Linked DNA regions of Homo sapiens: region 2 is linked to region 1. The links come from fine-mapping of genetic effects on gene expression. Tissue or cell type: prefrontal cortex. Region 1 holds a variant in brackets; the other region holds the start of a gene. All regions are shown on one strand. Distances are between the middles of the regions.

The links. PIP is the estimated chance that this variant, and not a neighbour inherited with it, causes the effect.
Region 2: it holds the start of AASDH, and the variant in region 1 is fine-mapped to the expression of AASDH in prefrontal cortex (CommonMind, PIP 0.94).

Annotation. Positions count from the first base shown.
Region 1 is chr4:56,465,480-56,468,218 of GRCh38, forward strand. SRP72 (signal recognition particle 72) reads left to right here and starts at 2,138. Exons shown (of 19, transcript NM_006947.4): 1 at 2,138-2,265. The coding sequence starts at 2,157. It overlaps LOC124900706 (a long non-coding RNA gene), which reads right to left and starts at 2,079. Exons shown (of 2, transcript XR_007058126.1): 1 at 1,613-2,079. RefSeq lists an enhancer at 1,983-2,192. The variant C/CT (reference allele first, on the strand shown) is at 1,267.
Region 2 is chr4:56,386,427-56,389,185 of GRCh38, forward strand. AASDH (aminoadipate-semialdehyde dehydrogenase) reads right to left here and starts at 1,065. Exons shown (of 15, transcript NM_181806.4): 1 at 936-1,065. RefSeq lists enhancers at 483-990, 960-1,329, 991-1,497, 1,360-1,409.

The DNA.
Region 1 (2,739 bases):
ATGATTTTTACTAATTCACAAGAATTACACCCTCCAGCACCTAGAGTTCAAGCCACCTTTCATGCTCTTTGCATTGTATATACTGGAAGGACCAGACAAAAATATGGCAGGGCACCATATGCCATATCAGGAGCTGGGCAGTTTCTGCCCTCAAGGAACTCAAGATTAGGCAAGGAATGTGAAACAAAAAATGCCAACTATGTGCCAGGCAGTATGCTAGATCCTAGGGATACTGCAGTGAGCAAGGTAAATATGGTTCCTTGGCCTCAGAACTATAGTCCATACAGAGTGAGATAACCCTTAATTATCAGTGCTCAGAAGTGGAGTCCTATAGGGAGTCTCCCAACCTTTTTGGCACCAGGGACCGGTTTCAGGGAAGACAATCTTTCCACAGGAGTTGGACAGCTGGTTTCAGTATGATTCAAGCTCATTACATTTCCCATTAGATTCTCTTAAGGAGTGAGCAACCTAGATCCTTCACATTCCCAGTTCACAATAGGGTTTGAGCTGTGAGAAGCTAATATCACAGCTGATCTGACAGGAGCTCAGGCGGTACTGCTCACTGGCCCACCGATCACCTACTGCTGTGCCGCCCGGTTCCTAACAGGCTGCAGACCAGTACAAGGGTTGGGGACCCCTGTTCTAAGAGGATGCAACCAGAAGGCTGCCCAGTCTGCAAGATCAAATGTTTCCTCAAAGTAACTTTCAACGTATAACCAGAAAGACTGAAAGACAAAAAGTAGTTAGCAAGGCCGGGCACGGTGGCTTACGCCTGTAATCCCTGTACTTTGGGAGGCTGAGAGAGGGCGGATCACTTGAGGTCAGGAGTTTGAGACCAGCTTGGCCAACACAGTGAAACCCCATCTCTACTAAAAATTCAAAAATTAACCGGGCGTGGTGGCTCATGCTACTTGGGAGGCTGAGGCAAAAGAATCGCTTTAACCCAGGAGGTGGAGATTGCAGTGAGGTTCATCCTGGGTCACAGAGCTAGACTACGTCTCAAAAAAAAAAAAAAAAAAAAAAAAAAAAAGCTAGGTTCCTGAGGGACACAGGAAGTAGTAGAAGTTGTAAAGGTCATGACGAGATATGAGTCTGAAGAGCAGGCCATTCAATGAAATACAACATTCACATCAAGTGAATCACTCACATCGTCTTGGTGTGGTGGCTCATGCCTGTAATCCCAGCACTTGGGGAGGCTGTGGTGGGAGGATTGCTTGAGCCCAGGAGTTCCAGACCAGCTTGGGCAACACGGCAAGATCCCCGTCT[C/CT]AAAAAAAAAAAAAAATCACTCACATCAAGTGTACCCAACAGATATCCATTCCCTTCGTACATCTGAACACATCTTGATATTAACGGTCGCAAGCAAACCCTAATATTTTATATCTCTAGAACAAATATAGTATCCCCATTTCACAATCGGGAAAACAGACTCCCAGAAGCTAAGTAACTTGTTTATTGTCAGACATCTAGTGAGTCGCAGAGCCAGGGAACTGACCACGGGCATTTTCACCCCATTACCCTTCCAGCTTATTGCCGACTGCTCCCGAAGGGAGCGAAAAGGACAGGCAAAGGGTTTCACCAAACCCTTTGTAATGGGAGATTCTTGCCTTCTTACCTTTCCTCACGTTTGCTTCTCTGCCAGAATGTCTTCCCGCACTTTCCCCAGAACCCAAGTTCTCCTAATCATCTTTCAAGATCCCTTTCCCTCAACCACAGATGAGCCGTGCCTATTTCTCCTTCAAATGACTCCCTATGGCTTCTAGTTGGTAGTCTTTTATTTACCACCTCATAGTCCTTTTATTTATATCCCATAAATGATCGTCCGGCCCCGCACCGTGGGACCAGGACGCTGCCTCGACCATGGCGGTCTCCTGGAAACAGGCTGCTTTGAGCCGAAACTGGTGACCGTTTCCCAACCCCGTCCAGGAGTCCGACGCCTCTTTTCTCCAGGCCAACTTCAAGTGAGGTGTATCAACTCTATCCGCACAAATTTCTTGCCACGAGAGCAGAAGATTATGATCTCTGATGCTGCCTTAGGGCTGAAGACACTCCCAACTCGGCGACGCTTAGCAATCATCGACTTCCTCCTCCTCTTGGCTGCCTCGGAGATCCTGTTCCGGGGCAGAGGTCTCCCCGCCCCGCCCCTCGTCTCCTCCAAGATGGCGAGCGGCGGCAGCGGGGGGGTGTCAGTACCTGCGCTGTGGAGTGAAGTGAACCGGTATGGCCAGAACGGCGACTTCACGCGCGCTCTCAAGACCGTCAATAAGAGTAAGTGTCGGGGTGGGCACTGGGGCGGGCCCAGGCCGGCTGGAGGATGCGGCCTGTTTCCGGCGCGCGAGACCACCTCGCGCGGGAGGCACGGGAAGGGGAGACCCCCGAAACCCCCCCGTCTATTGTCCGCCCGGCTCGGGCCCTAGCGCCCGGAAGACGCAGGTCTCACTCCTCGGCTTCACCAGGCCAGCCTGGGGTCCCTGGTTGCTTACAGCCACGTGTACTTCTCTTTTTACCCTCCGCGGGAAGCGAGGGAAGGTTTTAAAGAGACCGCAGCTCCCGGAGTCCATTTCAAACTGTTTTCTTATTTGACTCCTTTGCTGCTTTATTTCACAAATATTCCAAAGTGCCTCCTTTTCTTCTTCGTCTTGAGCGCAGTGATCAGGACTCTATTGCTGAGGGAGCTTGTTCTCTTTGGCCGCTAAAGGGGGAGGAACCTGCTTGGGACACGTAGTTTAGAGGCTGGTGCTA
Region 2 (2,759 bases), 79 kb before region 1:
ATTGAATCACAAATAACATTCTCTGCAGTAGAGAATACTAAACTTATTAATGCCCAAATGTTTGAGACCTTAAAAAGGAAAAAAAGGCCGGGCGCGGTGGCTCACGCCTGTAATCCCAGCACTTTGGGAGGCCGAGGCGGGTGGATCATGAGGTCAGGAGATCGAGACCATCCTGGCTAACAAGGTGAAACCCCGTCTCTACTAAAAATACAAAAAATTAGCCGGGCGCGGTGGCGGGCGCCTGTAGTCCCAGCTACTCGGGAGGCTGAGGCAGGAGAATGGCGTCAACCCGGGAAGCGGAGCTTGCAGTGAGCCGAGATTGCGCCACTGCAGTCCGCAGTCCGGCCTGGGCGACAGAGCGAGACTCCGTCTCAAAAAAAAAAAAAAAAAAAAAAAGGAAAAAAAAAAGCAAACTCTGGTAAGCAGATTTTACATGTAAAAGGAATAAATTTACTTGCTACAACTGTAGAAGCTGCTATTTAGTCAACAAAGATCTTAAGAGTGTCAGCAAATTCAATTGCTATGGGGCCTCTCTCTAGGCCACTGGCTGTTTTAAAAATGGATAAATAATCTAGAAACTTTATTTTCCCAATTCCCCGGCTTCTAAATTTACGGTATGCAACGAGTAACAATGCAATTTACAGCTTCCTAAACATTTCTTCATTGCTCTTCGAAACCACTCTAGGGGGTAGCTGAGCGCGGAGCACACTTATTTCCATTTGAATGGAGGGGCGGAGGCTAGTGACGCAGGAGTGTACACACAGGTCAGGGTTAGTCTGCACCACACCAGCACGCCAGACCCCGATGTATCAAATCCGAGGTCAGGCAGTGGTCCTGAAGCTGAGCAAATGTATGTGGAAGCAGGCTCAGGCCTAGCGGCACTTCGCCTCCTTCACACAGACCCCCGCCGGACACCGCGCCCTGCCGCGACTCACTTAGCAAGTCTCGCGGATTAGGTTTGATCGCATTCGGCCCTTTCCCGGATAGCTCGTCGCGGATACTTCTCACAGCGAAGCAGCAGCTCCCAGAAGCCGTAAAGCTATCCCAGAGCGAGGCACCATACGTAAATCTTCCGCGTCGCTACGTGACGTCAGTGCGAGCGACCCCGGGCCGGCTGCGTGGAGCTGGCGCTGCCTCTCCTGAAGCCGAGGCGCTAACTTGAGTGAAGAGGTCTATAGGCTTTTTCACTTTTGGTTATCTGCTCAGGCGCTCCTTGGGGTCGCGCATGGTCTCGGACAGGGTTTGCAAGGACTTCGGAGCTAACCAGTTTGGAGCCATAACCCTTTCGTACTTGCCAAAAAACTCTGGGCAAGACTCTTGAATTTTGAGCCGCAGTATTCTCGTTCATAAGGTGAGAATAAAAACATCACCTAGGGTTGATGTGAAGAGAGATGAAATCATTGTGAAATAGGAGAGTTATTGCTTTCAACCAATGACATTTTCTGGAAACGTGCTGGAGATATGGCTGCAGCAGTGACGCCTGCAAACGACGTTCCTGTCATCATGATGCTGACATTTTAATTGGGAAGCAGATTGAAACGATAACTAAGGAATTTGACAGGAGCATTTAGTAGGACCTGTAAAGAAATTAAAGCAGGTCCGAGGTGGAGTTTTGTAAACTATATGCCTGAATAGAACTTTCTGTTTCCAAGGGAATTGTTACAGTTGGAGACATGTCAATTATTACAATAAGCGTCAAGGGCAATAACAGAGGTGTTTTAAAGCTACTGTCTGGTGGCAGAATAATCGGGATTTTTTTGTTTGGGGGGTTTTAGCCGGGGGAGGGACTGCGAAGACAGCTCTGCATCAAAACAGTACGTGAGAAAAAAGCATAGGACGCTCTCGCAGCCGTAGTTGTTGGTGACAAGAAACTGTGCTTCTAATCTAAGCAAAAAATATCTCCACATGCCAACTATACTTTTCCAAGATGTACCATGGACTACTCAAACTAACACAGCCTTATTTATGTATTTAGGTTGGAAGTGGGCAAAAGTGTATCTTGTCTATGTTTCTATGTTTCTACGTTGGGATGACACCATCATCCACCCAGCCAGACAGTTATCAACCTTCCCACTTTCTTAACCTCTTACATCCGATTAGACCCTATGTCCTCTAGTTCTCAGTCTTGAGACCAGCACCCAGCTGGCTACATCAGAATTGCCGGTGGTGATGTTTTAGAAGATTCCAAATTCCTGGACTCCATCCCCGGAGGTTCATCCCCTAGTTTTCTAGTGAGGGGCCTAGAACCTGCGTTTTTTAAGTGTCATGTTCATCGCCATTACTGCTACTTTAGTTCAGGTCTTCTTGGTCAGCTTTTTCCTAAAACGTTTTCAGTTTTGTTTGCCTCTGATTGACTCTGAATTGCTGCCAAAATGATGTTTTATTATTCCAGTATCATCATCCAACTCTCTGATATTAATGATACCTTTTTTAAAGTTTTTCTTCCCTTGCAGTATCTATTTCCCTCAAGTTTCCTTTTTTTTTCTTCTGTTGATTTTGTGCTCTATCTTTCACATTAGAGGCTTTCCTAGGATGTCTGGTGGTCCTTATCTGCTCATATGTAAGTGGGGGTATATTTAAAAGTTGATTGGAAGCTGTTGAGCCCATGGGACGTTTGTTGAAAATCAAGTGGGAGAGGAGGGGTATGGAGGCTGCGGTATGTCTCAGAATTTAGTACAATTTTCACTTAATTCTCTTTGTTTTAGGTGCCTGATGTCCTCCATTACAGAGACCCCGTTTTACTCCTGAGCAATAAAAAA